Linked DNA regions of Homo sapiens. The protein of the gene in region 3 interacts with the protein of the main gene of each other region in a pairwise test. Each region holds a gene or a part of one and is shown on either strand. Other genes may lie near its edges.

Region 1 (3,500 bases), on a different chromosome or scaffold from region 3:
CAGTTTCCTCAGGTAATCCTAAAAGTTCCAGAACTCTAGTTTAGTGAGACAAAGGAGTCAGGGGTTGAGAATCCATGCTTACGGAGAGCCTATTCCATACATACATTGTCTTAACATTTCTCATAAAACCATACAAGGAATGGATTACCTTCATCTTGCAGGTGAGGAAACTGAAGCTCAGAGAGGATAATTACTCAGCCAAAGTTACACAGCTACTTGGTGATCCTTACCATTGATCATGAATCACGATATCTGGGTTTTAAGCCAGGTTCCATTGCTGACTATTCCTGTTTCCCTGGGCAAGTCAATGCAATACAACAAACCATTATTATTAAGTTAAATGAAAGCCACTGTGGGAAATAAAAAGATTGTATCCAGTAGAAGGGACAAGCCTAGAGAAAATTAACTGCAATGAAGTGAACCCTGTGCAAAGTGCTACAAAGCCACTTTGCTTTTCAAACAGGACTTAGGTTGCTCGTCTGTAAAGTGAATGGATGAGCTATGTAGAAGTTGGCAAACTTTTTCGGTAAAGGGCCAGACAGTAAATATTTTAGGATTTGCAAACCATATAGTCTCTGTCAAAGCTACTGAACTCTGTCCTTGTAGTGTGAAAGCAGCTACAGATAATAAATAAACTAATTGGAATGGCCACGTGGTATTTTAGTAAGAGCAACATACTTGCAGGTATTCTTCTTCCTGAGCAACTTGGAAACATACAATCAGCGGAGAACAATCCATTTTATTACTGGATATTCACCCACCTGATAGCTGTTGAGTTTCTGAGCTGGAGCATCTTTCACTTTACCGTTTATTCTGCCCTGAGTATCTAGAATCAGGATAATGGTGTTTTAGGAGTGATTCTAATCAGAATTTACTTAAGAATATTTCCAGAAAAAAATAAAGGACTTAGTATTTGACATAGACATATAGTAAGTATTTTAGAGTCTCACTTTTGATACTGGCTGAAAAAAATTCAAAGCTAAAAATATTTTGGACAACATCGTCAGATTGACATATATTGGTTTGAGGATGCCTTTTATGACCCCAGTAAGGAAATGGTAAATGTTTGCATAGTTATCAACACAGTCTAACTCTGAACACAGGCTGTCTCTCTGAAACTTAGTTTTCAAGTATACTTGGTTTTGAAGCTCTCAGTGTATTTGTTCTGGCCAAAAATGATAAATCTCTGACCTGCCTTGACCATGCATAGTCACAGAAAGCCAACAGACAGCAAAGCAGAGGCGCTAGGCTGGCTGAAAAGCATTATTGGTATTTGAAGGACAGCAGGGGCCCTTCTTTATACTTGACTAGATTAGCCAGGAAGCACCAGCCATCTACATGAGGTGTATGATTAGCAAGACAGTCCTGTGGAAAGCCAATGGCAAAAAGGGATGCAAAGCAGAGAAAAGAGCCTAGTTGGGGCTCCTTTGGAAGCTCCGTACCCACACTCTTCCCTCGAGAATACTCCTGGGGAAAAGTCTGCTATTCTCTCCTAAATGCACTGGGGGCTATTTTCATCCTGGAAGGACTTTTTTATTTATTTTTGAGATGAGGTATTGCCCTGTCACCCAGGCTGGAGTGCAGTGGCTCAAGCACGACTCACTACAGCCTTGACCTCCCAGACTCAGGCAGTCTCCCTCCTCAGCCTCCTGAGTAGTTGGGACTACATGTGCATGCCACCACACCCAGCTAATTTAAAAAACTTTTTGTAGAGAAGGTGGGGAGGGGGAGGATATGGAGGTGTGTCTCACTATGTTACTCAGGCTGGTCTCAAACTCCTGGCTTCAAGCAATCCTCTCACCTTGACCTCCCAAAGTGCTGGGATTACAGGTGTGAGCCACCACCACGCCTGGTCCCTGGCAGGATTTTAAAAATTAAACCAATCAACAAGACCTCAAGCAGACAAACCTGCTGCCTGTTTAGGGGCTGGTCCTCCCTTTTCTTATCAGGGTTGGCATTTATCCTAAGGGCTTCTATCAGTGACCTATAGAGCCAGCTACCTGCTTTGGAGGCAAGGGGCTGTGTGCAGGAAGCAGCCGCCGAGAACCCCCCCTGCCTCTGTGGGTCCTGCCTACACTAGACTCCAGGGAACTCACTGTGCTGCCAAAGGGCCCACTGTAGCCTGGGCTGAGGGGTTCCCTTCTTCGACTCTTTGAATAATAATCAGTTTCCCTCTAATTGTCAGGAAAAGATGGTAAGAGTTGAATGCTCAATTTTAGGGTTTCTCTTCATAAAATTTTCTTAATCTTTTGGCCAGGTGCGGTGGCTCACGCCTGTAATCCCAGCACTTTGGGAGGCCGAGGTGGGTGGATCACTTGAGGTCAGGAGTTCAAGATCAGCCTGGCCAACATGGTGAATCCTCATCTCTACTAAAAATACAAAAATTTGCCAGGCGTGGTGGCACGCATCTGTAATTGCAGTTTCTCGGGAGGCTGAGGCAGGAGAATTGCTGGAACCCAGCAGGCGGAGGTTGCAGTGAGCTGACATCATGCCACTGCACTCCGGCCTGGGCAACAGAGCAAGACTCTGTCTCAAAACAAAACTAAAACCTAACCACAATATTAAAAAAAAAAAGCTTTCAATGTTCACCTGCTAGTGGGTGCCAGCAGATGACAAAATGAATGCATGAGAAATAAACAAATATTAACAGAAAAACTCAAACATCTGATCACATCTAGTTTAACAGTTTGTTGTTTTCATGGATATGTGTAAGCTTGTAGTTGAGATTTTACATGCATTCATACAACCCAGTAATATTTTCTCCTAGTGCATATGATGGGATTCAATATGAAATTAGATATTCATGGTGTTCTACAAAGAACAGCATAATTTCTAGATGCTCTGCCACCTGAATTAATTGGAAATATGCAACCAACAGAATTTTTTTTAGTGTGGGGGAGTGGACATATGGATGAAAAACAAGTAAAATAAACTAAGATGTTAATTTCAGCATATGACAAGTACTATAAAGGAAATAAACAGGGCATGTGATAGAGAGTGATTGTAAATAATAGTGGGCCCCCTTTAGTGAGGGAGAGTGTAGGAGGTCTCTTGGAGGAGAATTTCAAGTAGAGATCTGCAGAATGAGAAGGGAAACCACCCCATAGCCAGTGACAAGAATTCCTGGAAGAGGGAACAGCATTTGCAAAAGCTCAGAGCTGGAAAAGAGAGCTTGGCACATTAGAGGAAAGAATAAAGGCCAGTGTGGTTAGTGAGTAATAGGGAGAGGGGTACAGAATACCACTGGAGAAGAGGGTGGGAGCTATTAGTTTGGTGCAAAAGTAATTGTGGTTTTTGTCATTAGTTTCGCTTTTAATGGCAAAAACCGCGATTACTTTTGTACCAGCCTAATACTCCATGCAGGGCCCTGTGCATCAGATACAGAGTTTGGATTTTATTTTATTTTTATTTTTGAGACAGAGTCTCGCTCTGTTGCTAGGCTGGAGTGCAGTGGCGCGATCTCAGCTCACTGCAACCTCCGCGTCCCAGGTTCAAGTGAT
Region 2 (3,406 bases), on a different chromosome or scaffold from region 3:
GCTATTTTTAGCATTTATAAAAACAGTAAATTCACTATGACTGTTCTCTAGGGTGGTACTACATAAGACTTACCATCAGCAATATCATCATAGATCTCTCCATCACTGTAAATGTAAAAAAAAATTTTTATTTTAAAGAAACTATGTTCTTGGCATTAGAGCAATATATAGAAGAATAGAGTAACAGTATAATTTTATAAGACACAATTAAGACTTTTAAGCATAGTATGCATTTATAAGTAGAAATAAATTTGATATTCATTATCTCTTCTTTCATTGACTTAATCTAGTCCTCTGTTTCATTTTACATACAGAATAATTAAAACATGCTTCAAGAGCATAGACTATGCCTTACTCATCTTTATAAGACATGTTTGTTAACAATGTACTAAACATCATGGTACAATACTCCCATTGGGGATGTTAATTCAAAGCTGCAATGGACTTTTATGTCTGTTAATATCAGATTCATACTTTCACTTGAATTTCGAATGGTGAATTAAATACAATAATAATTGGCATAGGAAATGGTTGCATCATTTTCACATGTTTTCTAATTATAACTCATACATATAATAAAATATATAAATATTAGTTACAGAATAAGTAGCCAAGATATGATTATTATGGTGATTCTTATGTAATTTTAAAACTATTACTTATGATTATAGGCAGCATCCATAATAGTAATTTTGGTACTTTTACACATTTTAGGTTTTGCCTGGCCCTGAATCTTTGTGATATTTTCTATCCGACAAACATACTGAATCCCTTCTATGTACCAGGAGACAAAAATTTGAGTAAGAGACAAGCTTTGCTTTTAAGTACCTTATAATCAAACAGGAGATTATATAAGAAATAAAAATAGAGAGCATTATAAACATGAACATTGCCTTGAAATGTAAGATATACTTCTAAAATTCAGAAATGTAGGGTGGCTTTGTCACTTAGACCAGAACTACTCTTTGCTGTACAATCTCTGTGCTTTATCATGGAAGCAGCAGCAGGCCCTTCAAACTGCTGCCAACTATGGCAGATGCTGTGAGTTCCCTATGTCTTCTGTTTGGATCTTTTCTCTGAGATGGAGGGAGGGTTTGGCTAACGGAAATCTCATCCAAATGCGAGCAGGACAGGTTTTTCTGTCATTTATACAATAAACATTTATTAAGTATTCGCTTCAATAGGTGGTGAACCAACAATTACTTACAGAGTATGCTTTCTAAATTCTCTCAATCAGCCTGTAATAATCACTGATGGAGATGTTGTCCTATTATTTGCCACACATTCTGTCCTTAAAATTTGTATCTTTCATAGAACAAAACCTATTGAAAGTCTCTTGCCTCCCACTGTGATTAATGTGCTCAGGAGAACAAAGGTATTATGATTATTTTTCTTTGGCCTTTACTAGTTTGCCAGCAAAGCTCTTCACACTGATTTGTGTTTTTCTGATTGGTGTCAGGTTGTTGATGGGTACACAGTTTGTGACTCCTTCTGGATCTTTTCATTGTGCTAAATTCTGTAAATCTTTGCATTGGCACGTGACCTAACCTGATAATGGAGTTCGTTTCTTGCACTGGGTTACTTGGGACAGAATCTTATGTTTCAGGGGACTCCAAAGGCACACTAGTACCACACTGTGACAGACTGTGACAATGTCTTATTCATAAGAATAGAAGAATCATTGATGACTGTCTTTTTTTCTGGCATGCTTCCATAAAAGGCAACATAGTACTCTACTATGCCTAGTGTGAGTGAAGCAAAGCCCTTAATTAAGGGCTAAATTATGAACTGTTAACAGGTGATATTAGCACCTACTATGAAGTCACTAATTGGTCCCAAATTAATTCCACTCAATCAATTGCATTAGCAAGTAAAATGCAAAATATTGATGAAAAGGTTACTGGCTTTGACATGTCTTCAGTGTTTGCTGAGAGCCTAATGAATATATAAAACTATTAACTATGAGCTGTACAATTTTAAATGAGAAGGGCTCCTCGCCTATTTAAAAGAGTAGCACTTCATGGAAACCTAAACTTTATTATGGATACTAACATGTTAACGTTAGTATAGCATATTGTTTTTAAATTTATTTATGATAGTTGAGTAGGTTACATTATTTAAGTAATATTATAAATATTTTAAAAAGAAAGGCACAAAATTCTTTTCACAAGCATAGTAGTAGAAGAAAATGGGCTTACTTGTCCGCTAGGTAACTCCGAAGGACATAACCATCTACGAAGGAAAAAGGAAATAAATTGTATCAATAATACAGGTTGAAAAATCTTTAGTACTTTTTTCAGGAAATCAAAACACAAGAGAGTAATCATAGTATATTGAATAATTGTATCTATCTCTGGAAATGACCCATTTTTCTTACTTGTGTCTACTTTTGTGTCCTTCCTTTCTTCTCCTTTTCTCCCTAACTTTTCTCTTTCTCCAGTATGTCTCTTTTTTCTCCAATTTCAACCTTTCCTCCTTTCCCCTTTAAATAAAAAAGCAACTTTTTTCATTAAGCTACTGTAGGCTGTAGCACAGAGTTCAGTGTGTTACCCCCATGATCCAGTTTTAGGAAGAATTTAGTAAGCATAGATTATAAAAGTCATTTATTGGTAAGTATTTTAAATACCACCAGATCTAAGACTTACTTTCTAAAATTTTATTATATTGAGCAGAGAGAGAACTGTATTCAACTCCCCTTTCAGATCCCAGCCAGCTATTGACTACTAGGGGGACTATGCATTGTAAATAGTCTCAAACAGGTCTCTTTTACTCTGTATGGAAGAAATTCCTCTACTGTTTTGCTATTGGACAGTATCAACATTTGCATTTCATCACTCATGGAGCAAAAGCATTATTGGAAGAGCACATACTATGGATTCTATGATGCCTGGTTAAGTAGAAAATAAGCCATATTTTATGCAAGAAAGCTAAGTTTTGTTGTTGTTGTTGTGTGAGGGGCACCTTATATTTGCCTCTCATTGTGCAAATGTTTCTCAGGAAAAATAGGAACTATTTTTCTTAAGAAAATGCCTGCTGATATCTAATTAATATTACTAATCTTTGGAATTGTTAGTTTTGTGTTAGTGCCTAAAATCTGTTGTATGCTTGAGATTAGTACCATTTATTGCTTCCTCAATACAATCTCTAAATAATTTCTCTCAGTGAGTCAATCTATTGGTTTTGGTCCACTTTAGATCTAATTTTAGTTCTGAATCAAAGCAAATGTGTTACAAATTATAAGGAGAAAGCTCATAAGCAAAAATTAATAATATAAATGATAAACTTACGTAAATGTATTGATGTCATATTGCCAATGATTAAACATGAAAATATTTTTTAAAAGTTGGAATCATAAAACTGAATTTATACATTAAAATTTAAGAAAATGAACTTTCCCTTGAAGTGT
Region 3 (3,500 bases):
GGCCTCCCAAAGTGCTGGGATTACAGGCATGAGCCACCACGCCCGGCCTGTATTTTTAGTAGAGACGGAGTTTCACCATGTTGGCAAGGCTGGTCTCGAACTCCTGACCTCAAGCAATCTGCCCACCTCCGCCTCCCAAAGTGCTGAGATTACAGGTGTGCGCCACCGTGGCTGGCCTATATTCATTTTTCAAAAATTTTCTAGAGTTTTACATTTTCATTGCTTTGTACTTTTACTTTGTCTTATTTTACTTTTTCACCATGTGTTTTTCAAAGCTGAAGGTATATTTGATGTGATTATTATAAATCACTTGTCAGGAAGACTTGACTTAATGAATACAGATACAGTTCATTTTTAAAATCATGGTTTAATAATTTTTAGAATTTACCTTTATAATATAGAAAAATACCAAATGTTCTTTATCTGCACTAGAAAATTAAATGATTATTTCATTAATAAGTAAAATTGAAGGGAACTTTTGAAATCACTGAGCAGTTAACAAATTCTCTATAAATACTGTGATGTTAGGAAGACAACAAGGCTAAATATGACATTTAAAGATTTAAGGAAACTTTATGTCTGGCTGATCCTCACCTTAAACTCTAATGAAGATAGAATTTATAGTCTTCCCTTCAAAACTGATTCCATATGCTGACTTTGTTTTGGTGACATTACCATGCTTTCAATTACCCAGACACAAACTTTGGTTTTATCTCTATGCGTGTAACAATATTGGCTGATTTTTGCCAGCCATTTTTATCTTTGAACTACTCACTAGCCTTTAATTGGGTTTTTTGCTTGATTTTTCTCTCTACTTAGTATGTCTTCCTAAATCTTAGAATTATGCTTCAAACACATCCTTCACTTTTCGGAAACCAGTGATAACTCTCTGTTATCTTCAGAGTATAGTTCAGAATTCATAGCCTAATAACAGTCTGCTCAAACCTGTTTTTCTGGGGCCAGCACTATTTCTTTCTTTTTTTTTAATCAGTGCCAGCACTATTTCTTTATAGGAGCTGTCCACTCTAACCAAACCAATCTCTGATTCTTATTTACTCTTTGTATTTTTGTACCTTCGTATCATTCCTTTTTCTTTCTTTCTTTCTTTTTTTTTTTTTGAGACAGAGTCTCGCTCTGTTGCCCAGGCTGGAGTGCAATGGTGCGATCTCGGCTCCCCGTAACCTCTGCCTCCCGGGTTCAAGCGATTCTCCTACCTCAGCCTCCCTAGTAGCTGGGACTACAGGCATGCGCCACCATGCCTGGCTAATTTTGTATTTTTAGTAGAGACGGGGTTTCTCCGTGTTGGTCAGGCCAGTCTTAAACTCCTCACTTCAGGTGATCTACACATCTCAGCCTGCCAAAGTGCTGGGATTACAGGTGTGAGCCACTGTGCCTGGCCTCTTTCTTTCTTCTTTTTTTTTTTCTTTGAGGCGTCTCACTCTGTCACCCAGGCTGGAGTGCAGTGGCACCATCTTGGCTCACTGCAACCTCCGTCTCCTTGGTTCAAGTGATTCTCCTGTGTCAGTCTTCCGAGTAGCTAGGATTACAGGTGCATGCCACCACGCCTGGCTAATTTTGTATTTTTAGTAGAGATGGGGTTTCACCATGTTGGCCAGGCTGGTCTTGAACTCCCGACCTCAGGTGATCCACATGCGTCGGCTTCCCAAAGTGTTGGGATTACAGGCGTGAGCCACTGTGCCCGTCCAGTTTGCCTAGTCTTTAAAATTTTTTTTTTCTCCTAAATTACCAAGTAGCAAATGAAGTAAAATTTGTTGAATTTTCGCTTTTGGTCCTTTGGTGCAGTCTTCCAAATGTTTTTCCTGTTCCCTATGTTGCTTGCTTTTCTTTCTTTCTTTCTTTCTTTCTTTCTTTCTTTCTTTCTTTCTTTCTTTCTTTCTTTCTTTCTTTCTTTGTTTCTTTCTTTCCTTCCTTCCTTCCTTCCTTCCTTCCTTCCTTCCTTCCTTCCTTCCTTCTTTCTTTCTTTTCTTTCTTTTCCCTTCCTTCCTTCCTTCCTTCCGTCCATCCATCCGTCTGTCCGTCCGTCTGTCTCTCTCTCTCTTTCTTTCTTTCTTCTTTCTTTTTTGACAGGATCTCGCTCTGTTGCTCAGGCTGGAGTACAGTGGCCTGATCACAGCTCCTCATTGTAACTTGAACCTCCCAAAGGCCAGGATTACAGGTGTGCATCAATGTCTGGCTAATTTTTTTTTTTTTTTTTTTTTGTAGAGATAGGGTCTCACTGTGTTGTTCAGACTGGTTTTGAATTCCTGGCCTCAAACGATCCTCCCACCTTGGCTTCTCAACGTGCTGGGATTATAGGGGTGAGCCACTGTGCCTGGTCTGTTGCTTTCCTTTAAACCCATACCCCTTATTATTTTAGTATTCCCTTGGTTTTTAATGTTGTGTGGACTTGAATCATAGAATTATAGAGCATTATTGCTGGAATGTTGGAATCCAACCTTGTGTTTTACAGATAAGGAAACTGAAATACAAATAGACTAGATGCACCAAAATTCAAACATTTAGTGATGGGGGCAGAACAAAGACTCAACCCTTGATCTTCTGACGCAAGTTCTGTGTGTTTATGAAACCATACTACTTCTCATCTCTTGTAATTTTGCCTTATTTGCCTCACATTATTTTGCATTTTGTGTATTTATGCCTTCTCATAGATTGAAAACTTCAGGGCAGGGGAACCTTCATATTTACATTGTAAATTTTTTTTTTTTTGAGACAGAGTTTCGCAGTTTTTGCCCTGGCTGGAGTGCAGCAGCATGATCTCGGCTCACTGCAACCTCCGCCTCTCGGGTTCAAGCAATTCTCTTGCCTCAGCCTCCTGAGGAGCTGGGATCACAGGCACCTGCCACCACACCTGGCTAATTTTGTATTTTTAGTAGAGATGGGTTTCACCATGTTGGCCAGGCTGGTCTCAAACTCCTGACCTCAGGTGATCCGCTCACCTTGGCTTCCCAAAGTTCTGGAATTACAGGCATGAGCCACCATGCCCAGCCTTACATTGTAAATTATTTAAACAATGATATAAAGTCTATATACAGTTTCTTTCCCCTATACTTGTTAGGTGTATTAACACCATTAACAAAAATAATATTGTCATGTTTACCATTGAGTTTTTTTTTTCTTGAGACGGAGTCCTGCTCTGTCACTCAGGATGGAGTGCAGTGGGGCAATCTCGGATCACTGTACCCTCTGCATCCCAGGTTCAAGGGATTCTCCTGCCTCAGCCTCCTAAGTAGCTGGAATTACAGGTGCCTGCCACCATGCCTGGCTAATTTTTGTATTTTTAGCAGAGACAGGGTTTCACCATGTTGGCCAGGCTGATCTCCAACTCCTAACTTCAGTTAATCAGCCTGCTTTGGCCTCCCAAAGTGCTGGGATTACAGGGATGAGCCACCGCACCTGGCCAGTGTTTACCATTGAATTCTATCATCTGCTAAAAAATGAATCTCTTACAGGTTTTACTGCTGCAATTTAGTTTGTCTTTT
Region 4 (3,500 bases), on a different chromosome or scaffold from region 3:
ATTTATGATCCACCCTCCTCAGCCTCCCAAAGTGCTGGGATTACAGGCGTGAGCCACCACGCCCGGCCTTTTTGTTTTTTTTGAGACAGGGTCTCACTCTGTCACCCAGGCTGGAGTGCAGTGAGTGGTGTGATCTCTGCTCACTGCAGCCTCCACCTCCTGGGTTCAAGTGATTCTCCTGTCTCAGCTTCCCAAGTAGCTGGGATTACAGGGTATGCCACCATGCCTGGCTAATTTTTGCATTTTTAGTACAGACCAGGTTTCACCATGTTGGCCAGTCTGGTCTCGAACTCCTGACATCAAGTGATCCACCCGCCTCGGCCTCCCAAAGTGTTGGGGTTACAGGCGTGAGCCACTGCACCTGGCCTAATTTTTATATTTTTAGTAGAGATGGGGTTTCACCATGTTGGCCAGGCTGGTCTTGGACTCCTGACCTCAAGTGACCCATCTGCCTCACCTCCCAAAGTGCTGGGATCACAGGCGTGAGCTACCACACCCAGCCTGATATATGGAGTTTTGATAGTGGTGCCAGTCACCTTTTTGATCACTTTTTCCCCTTAAATTTCCAAATTCTGCTTTTAACTTTGTTGTTTGTTACCCTTTCCTCATGGCAGGGAAGAGGAGGAAGATGCAGAAATAAAGGAAGTAGACTTCAGTCAGAGAGAGGGAAAGAAACAGCATGATATAAGAGTTTATCAAATACCAGCTGTTTTGTGGTTTGGTAAGGAGGAAATAACTGGAAAAAAAAAAAAAAAAAAACACCCAAAACCAAGAGAGGACATTTTTTTGAAACAAGAGTCTTTGTTGCATTAACATCTTAGACAGTCTTTTAAAAAATGTAGACCTAAGGGCGGGGCATGGTGGCTCACACCTGTAATCGCAACACTTTGGAAGGTCAGGCTGGAGTTTGAGACCAGCCTGGGCAATATAATGAGACCTCATTTCTACAAAAAATTTAAAAATTAGCCAGGTATGGTGGCACGCGCCTGTAGTCCTAGCTACTTGGGAGGCTGAGGTGGGATTGCTTGAGCCTGTGAGGTGGAGATTTCAGTGAGCTGAGATTGCGCCACTGCATTCTAGCCTGGGTGACAGAACAAAACTCTGTCTCCTCTCCTCGCAACCTGCCCCCCTCCCCCCGCCAAAAAAAAGTAGGCCTAACAAAGGATGGAAATCTTTTTACTTGTCTTAGTAACTTAATTTTTTTTGTTTTAATGAGACATTTTGAGATTTACCTGTTTGTGTCATTTTTAAAAATCTACTACAGTATTAAGTTACAGAATTTTCAGAAAGTTATCATTCAGATGTGATTTCATGTCTTTTGTTTTTGTTTGTTTTAGACAAAAGAAGTTAGAAAAGGTGATGGAAGAAGAAGGCCTAAAAGATGAGGAGGTAATTAATATTGGCAATGTTTTCCTTAAAACCCAGCGTGGCAGGTTGTATCTTGTCCAGTGAGTTGTTAGCCTTGGTACACATGAGAAGGGTTTTGGCTCAATAACAGAGGAACTTGAGGGGTAGTGTGCTTCCGGATTTGGGTGTTAATTCAGAGGGACAGATTAATTATTAAGTACCTAGGAGAGGAAGGCTTCTCTAGATGCAGTTATAGTAAACTAGATTTAGAATTCCAAGAGAAAGCAGGGATGAAATCAAATTAAATTTTAAAAGAGCAAGTTGTAGCATTTTTATAGAATTCACTGAAAAGTCTCCGTAGGAGTAGGGCAAATTTTTGAAATATTTATTTATTTTACTTTTTCTGGGATACATACGTGTGCTGAACATGCAGGTTTATTACATAGGTATATATGTGCCATAGTGGTTTGCTGCACCTATCAACCTGTCATCTAGGTTTTAAGCTCCGCATGCATGAGGTATTTGTCCTAATGCTCTCCCTCCCTTTCCCCCCATGCCCCGACAGGCCCCGGTGTGTCATGTTCCTGAAATCTTTATTAAGGCAAAATATCCATCTCAAATCAGCCCTTCCACCCAGTGCCCACAGATACAGTAGGAGAAAATATAGTTAACAAGGGACTGTGCAAGGAACTGAAATGGTAGTGGAAATGCCTTCAAAAATAGGACTGGCTTGCAGAACCCAGGACGGTGGTGAAAAATACCCAATACTTGTAGAAATAACAGAAAGTTAGAGTATACAGTGTTTAAGCCAGAGGGAAAGATAAGAACACATTTTTAATTTATATTAAACAGGATAAAGGAAAATATTGTTGATTATTTATCCCTCCCTTCACCAAAAATGTTAGGATAGTGGATTGCTGAAGTAGGTTAGTCAGAGTTCCCAGAGGAGGCACCCATCTGTTCAGTGTGGCTTGGATGTTGTGTCTAAATGCCAGGAAAGGGAGAAGTGACCTCTTAAGGATCCTTCTGGGGTGATTTCATATGTGAAAAGATTATCCTTAGTCCACTTGGACCTGTTTTCTAGCTGGGTAAGTCACAAACATGACTTGTTACAGAGTTTCAGAATTTCAGTTCCTTCCCGTCTCCTCCCTTTTTTATTTAAATATTAGAAACGACTCCGGAGATCAGCACATGCTCGGAAGGAAACAGAGTTTCTTCGTTTGAAGAGAACAAGACTTGGATTGGAAGATTTTGAGTCCTTAAAAGTAATAGGCAGAGGAGCATTTGGTGAGGTAAAAATCACAGCTACTTGTCAAGTAGAAAAATATTGCAAAACTTCAAAGCTTCTAACATACCATTAAGTCATGATTGTTGATATAACAAATATATGGAATTAAATGAGTCAGGCATGCCAGCCCCACATCCTAATTGCTTTGTCTGTCTGCTTTCTCTTTTTCTTCTCTCCGCAGTCCCAGATCTCTGTTCTCTGTTTTGCCAGAGATGGTGTTGGTGTTTAAATATTGACTTAGGGGGAGAGTTGAAAGGTAGAAGGAAATCAACATTTATTATTTACAGGCTGCTTTTTTCCCATAATCAGGACAGTAACCCATTTTATAGATGGTGAAATTAAGACTCTAAAGGTATATATAATGTCTCTTGTTATCACACAGCCATTGAGTACTGGGACCAAAAGTTGGGCTCTACTTCCTGAACTCAAAGAGCTTGCTTTTCCCAGTACTGCACTGCCTCTCGAGAAGGAAACTAATAGTGTATCTCCACCCTTTATTTCTCCCCACCAGATTGATACAGCTCTAAAAAGATGACCCTAGGAGGGAGGATTTACAGAAAGGAGTTATATAGGTAGTGGTGGAGAGTTGAAAGCATTTGCGACTTTGTCCCCGCAATTCTTGGAAATGATCCTGCTTGGGCACAAGAGCAATCTGTTGGGGAGAGCTTGAAAGAGCCCATGCAAGGTCATTCCTGTTAATGAAAAATGCCCAAACTGGATGACCTACTGACGCAATAATTGCAAGTATAAAAGGAGCAGTATATTATTAAAACCTGGTACCCCGGGGCCAGGCACGGTGGCTCACTCCTGTAATCTCAGCACTTTGGGAGGCCAAGGCGGGCGGATCACAAGGTCAGGAGTTCGA
Region 5 (2,232 bases), about 87 Mb from region 3:
ATTTGGCCTTGAGTGGAAGCCACAGGATTGGGACATGGTCCAGTCATCCCCAGTCATCCCTGTCTCTGCCACCCTACTGGCTGTGGCTGTCCAGCTGTTAACAGACCTGCACTTGGGGTGGGATCACTGAGGTGCCTTGCCCAGAATGCAGGCATGGCAGCAGCAGTGCCACATGGTAACTCCCCAAGGGGCGTGTGCTGAGCCTGGTTCACCTGCCCCCATGTCTTGCTTACCTACCCCTTGCCTTCTCTCTCATTCTTGTAGCTCCCCAATTCAGGATGTCCCCAAGAAGATATGCAAAGGCCCCAGGAAGGTAAGAGCTTTCTAGAAGAAGCACAGTCTAACCTTTGGCAGGACTGGACTTTTGGGAGGGCACGGTCTTGCCAGAGCCTTGTCACTCCTGGTCCAGGACTGAGGTACTTCGGAGCCACCCTTGGGATTCTACTCATTATCCCTCCTGCCTCCTAGTGAGGCATCAGAGATCCTGATCTTGTTCCACCACCACTACCCTCCCTCCTTTGCTGACATCCAGCTCATCAAGTCTGGCCCTGGGGTCTTCCCTGCAGGAGTCCCAGCTCTCACTGGGTGGCCAGAGCTGTGCAGGAGAGCCAGATGAGGAACTGGTTGGTGCCTTCCCTATTTTTGTCCGGAATGCCATCCTAGGCCAGAAACAGCCCAAGAGGCCCAGGTCAGAGTCCTCTTGCAGCAAAGATGTGGTGAGTGTGGCTTCCCACAGTGGCAGGAGCCAGCCCTCTTGGGTAGAAATGGGTGGCCAGCCCCCCAGCCCATTAGCCTGGCCCACTCATCTCTTCCTTCCACCCTAGGTAAGGACAGGCTTCGATGGGCTCGGTGGCCGGACAAAATTCATCCAGCCTGTATCCTTTTCCTGTGATGTTGAGCTGAGCTGAACTGTGGAGCCCATACTATGCCTCACCTATACCCCCAGCCTGCCAGTGCCAACAGCCTCAGGTGTGCAGTGCTGGGCCTCATTCTGTGTATCAGCGCCGCCCACCCCCGGCTCTGAGCCTTTCTTGCCCTGCATTGCAGTCCTTTCTCGCCCTGCATTGCAGTCCTTTCTCCATGCCTCTTCCTTGACAGCTCCTCCAGACTGACACAGTCATGATCCGCCCATTGCCTGTTAAGCCCAAGACCAAGGTTAAGCAGAGGGTGAGGGTGAAGACAGTGCCTTCTCTCTTCCAGGCCAAGCTGGACACCTTCCTGTGGTCGTGAGAACAGTGAGTCTGACCAATGGCCAGACACATGCCTGCAACTTGTAGGTCAAGGACTGTCCAGGCAGGGGTTTTGTGGACAGAGCCCCACTTTCGGGACCAGCCTGAGGTGTAAGGGCAGACAAACAGGTGAGGGTGAGTGTGGCACCCAGAGACTGCTCTTCCTGCCCTCACCCTGCCCCACTCCTACGACTGGGAGCTGACATGACCAGCCCACTGATCCTGTCAGCAGGTCCTGCTCCTGTTGCCAGGCTCCTGTTTATAGCCATGATCAGATGTGGTCAGACTCTTTCTGGGCCTGGAGACCACGGTCACTTGTTGACTGTCTCTGTGGACCAGAGTGCTTGAGGCATCTCAGGCAGCCTCAGCCCAAGCTTCTACCTGCCTTTGACTTGCTTCTAGGCATAGCCTGGGCCAAGCAGGGTGGGGAATGGAGGATAGCATGGGATGTATGGAGAGGATGGAAGATTTTCATGTAAAATAAAATTAAAAAAAAAAAACAATCTCTTCTTCCTGGTTCTGAGAGTGTAAATTTGCACCAACACTTTAGAAAACTGTTTGGCATGACTTTCTAAAGCAGGAACATCGCCAAGCCTCAGATCCAGCAGTTCCTTCCCTAGGCATATGCCTTCTCATGGGGCACAGGAAGACTCTAGAAAGAATGAGATCACTGCAGCTTTTCTCACAGTCTCTAACCTGGGCACAGCCTAAAGGCCATAAGTAGGAAAGTGAACGAGTAAATGGAAATCTATCTATACAGTGTACTCACAGCAAATAACCAGCGACCACTACCTTCCGTTCCTACCCACGTTTAAACGCTACCAGCCAAATTGCTAGCTTTTGACTTTTGGCTGCAAAGGCACTTTCTTTCTTTTCTTTCTTTTTCTTTCTTTCTTTTTTTTTTTTTTCTTTTTGCAACAGGGTCTCCCTCTGTCTCCCAGGCTGGAGTGCAGTGGCACAATCACAGTTCACTGCAGCCTCAACCTCCCAGGCTCAGGTGATC
Region 6 (3,500 bases), on a different chromosome or scaffold from region 3:
CACACAGCTGGCACTAGTTAGTTACACCAGGCTTCCAACAGTTAAGATTTTCTAACTCTTTTTTTATTTTTTTTTTGAGATGGAGTCTCACACTGTCGACCAGGCTGGAGTGCAGTGGTGCAATCTCGGCTCACTGCAAGCTCCACCTCCTGGGTTCACGCCATTCTCCTGCCTCAGCCTCCCAAGTAGCTGGGACTACAGGCACCCGCCATCAGGCAAGGCTAATTTTTTGTATTTTTAGTAGAGACGGGGTTTCATTCACCGTGTTAGCCAGGATGGTCTCGATCTCCTGACCTCGTGACCCGCCCACCTCGACCTCCCAAAGTGCTGGGATTACAGGCGTGAGCCACCGCACCCGGCCGCCAAGATTTTCTAACTCTTAACTGCTTTATAGTTAGTGTGTATCACGAATGTGCAAGAGGACACAGGGTACTGTGTTTCCCGAATTCATTGAATCAGAGAGCCTGGTGAAACACTGGATAAGGAGGAAAAGAAGCTACAGATGCTGGGACCCAATGGAGCCCACTGTCCCTCTCCCCTGCCCATGAATCCACCTTTGCGCTGGATCATCTCCGAGCGGATGGAGAGCGCGTCCTCTGCTGTGGAGCTCTCAGCCACGTAGGATGTGGTCTGACTGCAGAAGGAGATGTTGTCTTCATCCGGCCCCGTCCGGGAGGACTATCAGGGTAGAAGGAGATCTGGGTGGGGCTGTCTCCTCAAGGCTCCCCATTGGAACTTTTTTTTGAGACAAATCCAGCTCAGGCTGGAGTGCAGTAGCGAAATCTTGGCTCACCACAACCTCCGCCTCCCAAGTTCAAGCGATTATCCTGCCTCAGCCTCTCAAGCAGCTGGGATTATAGGTACCCTCCCACCATGCCTGGCTAATTTTTGTATTTCTAGTAGAGACAGGGTTTCACCACTTTGGCCAGGCTGGTCTCAAAATCCTGACCTCAAGTGATCCGCCCACCTCAGCGTCCCAAAGTGCTGGGGTTACAGGTGTAAGCCACCTCGCCCAGCCTCCCACTCGAACTTTTGAGTCACAGATCCCCTCCAGCATCACCTAGCACTGAGCAACCCTGAACTAGCCCTCAGGGTTCATTTAGTGTAGCCCTTTGTGATAAAGAAACTGAGACCCAGAAATGTTCCAAGACATCCTTGCCAGGGGTCAAGCAGGTAGAGAAGAGTCAGGACTGAGCTGGAGGCAGGGCTCACCTGGATACTCTGGGTGTCTCCATGGTCCCAGCCACCCTTGTTCAGTTTCTGTTTCTCTGGAAGACACCAGAAGGGTCTGTTGGGTTAGGCCCCTGACCTTGACAGCTGACAGTGCAGCACTGGAGGGAGGAGAGGGGAGGGGAGTGGAGAGGAAGCTTACCTTGGTGTTGTAGGGAGCGGAGCCCCTCCTGGGCCTGAGTGTGCAGCTCTTCCAGGTGGGGGGGTCGCCCACTGGGAAAGAAGACGTTGTCCTGGTGCTCATCCACTGCAGACCCTGGCCCCTGGCCAGGCCCTACACTTAGATGTTTGTCATTCTCAGCCTTGGCAGAGCCTAGTAGGAGGGAGGAGGAAGGGAAATGAGGTAAAGGCATCTGGGCCCTGCAGGGGCACAGGTCTCACGGCAAGGGCAGTCATGGTCCCCAGACTGCACACGGCCATTGCATATACAAGCAATGCCCCCTTCCCCAGTCTGGACACATAACCCACAGTTCTGGAGTAAACACTCAACACACACAGCCCCCATATACACAAACTACACCCAAGTGTACATAAATCTGAGTACCCACACCACACAAAGGGCCCCATATAAGGCCCCACACACAGGGCACACAGGTACACAGGTCTACTGTGTACGTACACAGCACTCACAGATGTCATTCATGTATATAAACAAAGGGCATCCGAGTATAAACACACATAGGTACACACACCAAGCACACCCAGCCCGCACGTAAACACACAACACCCACAGTCCCTGCTCTGTATATACACAAACAGTAACCAAGTATACACACGACTATGTACTCACACGTCACTCAGAGCCCCACAAAAAACATCCCGAGTATACACATAGCCCATAGTAAATACATTGCTCTCGCCTCCATACCCAAAACCCCACTTCACAGGAAAACAAACCACTCTTTTCATGCCACCACTTGAACCAGGTCCAGGAAGAAGATATCACGGGAAATCAGGAAGGAGAGACAGCTGGCATGAGTTACAACCATATTCCCAGAAAATCCTAGGGGGGATGCAGACCAAGGAGATAGCCTCCTGGGTCCCCTACTCACCCATGTGGCTGCCCCTTAGTGGAAGGATGGGCAGGGGAGGGGAGAAGAAAGACCCAGGCCCCTCCACCCGCCCAAGGGAGCTCCAGTCTCTCTTGGGGAAATAGTCCCAGGTATCCCCCTCTCCTGGAGGCCCTGGCCCTGGCCCTGGCCCCTGTTGCAGAGGAGCCAGGGATCCATTACAAAGGATCCTGTTACAAGCCCCGCCTGTGGAGGGGCTGGCCATCTAATCCTGGGGATGGGGGGCTGTGTCAGCACTTTGCAGCCCCAGCCCCCCCTTTAAATGAAACCCACAACATAAGCAAAAGCGCTGGAAGGGTCATGTGACCTTGGTAACACCTTATAAAGGGACGGGAACAAAACAAGCCCTTTAAAGGGCCATGCTCCAGGAGCAGGGTCTTCAGTTCAGAAACCTGCCTTTCCTCCTCCCTCAGCCCATTCGTCAACAGCCAGAGCTCCTGCCCTAGGGAGTCTGCAGGAATCCCACAGGTCAGAGCTAGGAGGCCCCCAACAGATCCAACCAGACCAGTGCCCGAGATCCCCAGATTTTACAAGTGGGGAAACGGTTCAAAGGGGCAAGGCCTTGCCTAAGGTCACCCAGCAGTAGGAGTCAGACTGACCCTGGACTCAACTCCAGGTTCCCAGAGGGGACTCCCGGATCACACTCAGAGTAGGGGCCCCCAACCCTCAAAAGTCCAATAAACTCTTGTCCCTATGTCTTAATCCAGGTCTGAAAGCCCAATTCCTAGGAGAAGGAAGGAGGAACAGGCCCCTCCCTCCAAAACTTCTCCATTCCCAGGCCTCTAAACAGGATTTCACTGAGCAGGCTTCCCAACTTCCAGTGGTACTACTCTCCTCTCTTCTGGGCCGCCCACGTCCCATCCTCCCCGGCACACTAGGAAAGGCTAGTACATCTTGACTGGGAGGCTGTACCCAGTAAAGTGTGGGTACCCCGGCAGGGAGGCAAGTCTCACGGGAGGGCTGCAGGCTTCAAGGTCAGAGACACCTGGATCCATCCTCCCAACCCACAAGCAGGGCCCAGACAAAGGCAGCAACAAAGCGGCTGGACAAAAGCACAGCCGGATGGGAGATTCTGGCCTCATTATCAGCCCCCAGCCCCACCCCATTACTTTTGCCCAGCCTTGATTCCTCATTCTACATAAGGGTCTGGGAAAGGGAGGCATCGAGCATCCCTCCCCTCCCCCCAAGCCACACCCACTC
Region 7 (2,388 bases), on a different chromosome or scaffold from region 3:
TGGTCTAGACGCCATTCTTTCCTGCTGCATTTTTTTTAATGCCAAAGAGATGACTGTCTTTTGTTTTTGCAGTGGCATTGAAAATATCCGCCCATTTCATAGTTTGCTGCTGATAAGAGGAATGACCTCTTTCATCCTGTGTCAACTTTTCATGGCACAGTTTCTGCCCCTGTGATTGGAATTGCTTCCTGGGCCACCACAGTTATCCCGAGGCCCCTAGTCAGAGTCACCTTGGAACTGACTTAATTAACTCTCGAGTGTAGGAAATATCAATGGCCTCCCTCTCCCGTGACCCTGTATATTGTATATTGCTTGTGTGTTCGTGTGTGGTGTGCAAAAGGGTCTAACCTGGTGTAGCACCAACAAAGCTAAAGAACACAATCTGATATCTCTTCTTCCTCCTCTGTTTATTTAGGTTTGGTGGGAAGGGGACGGTGGGCGGGCCGGGGACAGAGCGGAGATGTTTTTAAGCTCTGAACCAAGCTTGCACCCGGTGACTTGCATCCTTAGAGGGGATGCAGGGGTTCTAAGATGCTGCTGCAGCCGCTGCTTCCTGGCCCATCTCTGGCACCAGGAGGAGTCTGGAGTCTCCAGAGAGAACCGCACTCAATGTGCTGGGAGCCGCAGGCTTTCCGCAGGGGGCCTTTAAAATACCCACTTCCTTCCCTTGGAGAGACCTAGTTCTGCAACCCAGCCTTACCCTGGGCCTTAAGCTTACCGGGATTTTTTTTTTTCTGCATCTTTTGAATGCCCAAGCCAGAATAATGAAGAAAAAAGTAGATATGCAGTGTGCAGATCAGAACTAACCACCCCTAGGTAAAAAACTGTGTGTTCTAACTACTGACCTATCCCAGTTTTTCCCAAGCTTGTCCTGAGAAGCTGTGTAATGTCCTGAACCTTCTGCTTTGATCAGGAGAGAAGGGCCCCTCCTCCAGTGCCAAAGAAGCCGGCGAAGGGCCCCGCGCCGCTGATCCGGGAGCGCTCGCTGGAGAGCTCGCAGCGCCAGGAGGCCCGCAAGCGCCTGATGGCCGCCAAGCGCGCCGCGTCCGTCCGCCAGAACTCGGCCACCGAGAGCGCCGAGAGCATCGAGATCTACATCCCCGAGGCGCAGACCCGGCTCTGAGCGCCCCGCAGCCCGGCCGCCGCCGCCAAGCATCTGTCCCCTCCTCCCCCGGCCGCTCCTCTGCCGGCTGCCTCTCCCCCTCCGAGCCCGTCCGCTCCCGAGCTCGGTGACTTCCACTGTCGCGGTGTAGTTGTCCACCTCGCAGGAGCCGCCCCCCGGGCCCCCCTCAGCCCCCCACTTCCCGTACCCGTTTGCCCATCTCCTTCTTCACCGAGCTTCGCCCCCTGTCCTGATGCCGTCGCCCTGCCTCATACTGAGATCCAACCCTTTATTTTCTGGGCAAAGCCAAACCCACCTGTGTAGAAGTGATGCCTTTAGGTCACCCGCCGTCCTCAGTTCTCTCGAGCTAGTCTGTTCAGCAATATAAAACCATAGGGTATTTCAGAAATCCAGTATCACAGGGTGATCCTTTGGGACTTACCGTCTTCCACGTGAAAGAAACTAGGCCTCCGATTCCCTTTATTTCCCCTAAATGGTTATTCTTTTAAAAAAGCAGATGGAGCACTTTATTCCCAACCTCAGAAATCACACCATCTCACTGGAATCCATGAGGGACACAGAGAGAGGGGACCAAGCCTGGCCTGGGGGTGGGGGACCTGGATGTGTAGCAAGGATGGGAGAAGCGAAATCTGCAGGTGCTGGGGGCACCTGCACACTCACAGCTGCACAAACTGCCTCACTGTTACTTCATCAATCACAGCTTCAAATGTCTCAATCAGCAGAAGATTGTAAATTCGATCTTTCAGGGAAATTAATCTATTCTGAAAGGCAATAACATGAAGCAAGGCAAAGGAGGCACTGATGGTTTAGTATACTACATAAGGGATTTTTTTGTTCTATTATTAAGAAAATCTAGACCTGAAATGTTTTCTCAACTCTTATTGTACTGTGTATATTTATATTGTTGTCGTGGCGGCTGTTTTTAAAGGGAAAGTGTTGGTTCTATTAATTTGTTAAGTGTCCATCCAGGTGGGCCTACCTGATTCCACATATATAAGTACATATCTGCTTATAAAGCGCTGTAAATGGCAGCAAGGCTGTTTTTGGAGAAGAGTTTGGGTTTTCCTACCATCCCTTTGAATGCTACACATCCGTCTATTTTAACCCAAGTAGTTCGTATTTCAGATATATTTTCTCCTTTCATCTCCTCTCACTACTGCAGAGTCCAGTAATACCTAGCATAGGATTCTGTCCTGTGTCAAATGGCTAAAATAAATTTTTGCCCCAATAGACATGCTGCCTCATTCAAAAGAGCTGCCGCTGTC

What was found.
Region 1: the proteins of NCK1 (region 3) and SLC24A1 interact in binary tests that used the Homo sapiens proteins (3 or more experiments, as listed by UniProt).
Region 2: the proteins of NCK1 (region 3) and FYB1 interact in binary tests that used the Homo sapiens proteins (3 or more experiments, as listed by UniProt).
Region 4: the proteins of NCK1 (region 3) and STK38 interact in binary tests that used the Homo sapiens proteins (3 or more experiments, as listed by UniProt).
Region 5: the proteins of NCK1 (region 3) and TRAIP interact in binary tests that used the Homo sapiens proteins (3 or more experiments, as listed by UniProt).
Region 6: the proteins of NCK1 (region 3) and NHSL3 interact in binary tests that used the Homo sapiens proteins (3 or more experiments, as listed by UniProt).
Region 7: the proteins of NCK1 (region 3) and DLGAP1 interact in binary tests that used the Homo sapiens proteins (3 or more experiments, as listed by UniProt).

The regions. Positions count from the first base shown.
Region 1 is NC_000015.10:65,628,438-65,631,937, forward strand, and holds part of SLC24A1 (sodium/potassium/calcium exchanger 1), read left to right. Parts: intron 1-3,500. UniProt on the Homo sapiens protein: Calcium, potassium:sodium antiporter that transports 1 Ca(2+) and 1 K(+) in exchange for 4 Na(+). Critical component of the visual transduction cascade, controlling the calcium concentration of outer segments during light and darkness.
Region 2 is NC_000005.10:39,108,158-39,111,563, forward strand, and holds part of FYB1 (FYN-binding protein 1), read right to left. Parts: intron 2,233-3,406; coding exon 2,199-2,232; intron 106-2,198; coding exon 74-105; intron 1-73. UniProt on the Homo sapiens protein: Acts as an adapter protein of the FYN and LCP2 signaling cascades in T-cells. May play a role in linking T-cell signaling to remodeling of the actin cytoskeleton. Modulates the expression of IL2. Involved in platelet activation.
Region 3 is NC_000003.12:136,865,208-136,868,707, forward strand, and holds part of NCK1 (SH2/SH3 adapter protein NCK1), read left to right. Parts: intron 1-3,500. UniProt on the Homo sapiens protein: Adapter protein which associates with tyrosine-phosphorylated growth factor receptors, such as KDR and PDGFRB, or their cellular substrates. Maintains low levels of EIF2S1 phosphorylation by promoting its dephosphorylation by PP1.
Region 4 is NC_000006.12:36,523,480-36,526,979, reverse strand, and holds part of STK38 (serine/threonine-protein kinase 38), read left to right. Parts: intron 1-1,337; coding exon 1,338-1,389; intron 1,390-2,516; coding exon 2,517-2,639; intron 2,640-3,500. UniProt on the Homo sapiens protein: Serine/threonine-protein kinase that acts as a negative regulator of MAP3K1/2 signaling. Converts MAP3K2 from its phosphorylated form to its non-phosphorylated form and inhibits autophosphorylation of MAP3K2.
Region 5 is NC_000003.12:49,828,101-49,830,332, reverse strand, and holds the end of TRAIP (E3 ubiquitin-protein ligase TRAIP), read left to right. Parts: intron 1-264; coding exon 265-313; intron 314-566; coding exon 567-716; intron 717-824; coding exon 825-875; intron 876-1,107; coding exon 1,108-1,230; 3' UTR 1,231-1,732; downstream 1,733-2,232. UniProt on the Homo sapiens protein: E3 ubiquitin ligase required to protect genome stability in response to replication stress.
Region 6 is NC_000001.11:32,765,830-32,769,329, reverse strand, and holds part of NHSL3 (NHS-like protein 3), read right to left. Parts: intron 1,544-3,500; coding exon 1,373-1,543; intron 1,269-1,372; coding exon 1,213-1,268; intron 679-1,212; coding exon 555-678; intron 1-554. UniProt on the Homo sapiens protein: Able to directly activate the TNF-NFkappaB signaling pathway.
Region 7 is NC_000018.10:3,497,920-3,500,307, reverse strand, and holds part of DLGAP1 (disks large-associated protein 1), read left to right. Parts: intron 1-913; coding exon 914-1,123; 3' UTR 1,124-2,388. UniProt on the Homo sapiens protein: Part of the postsynaptic scaffold in neuronal cells.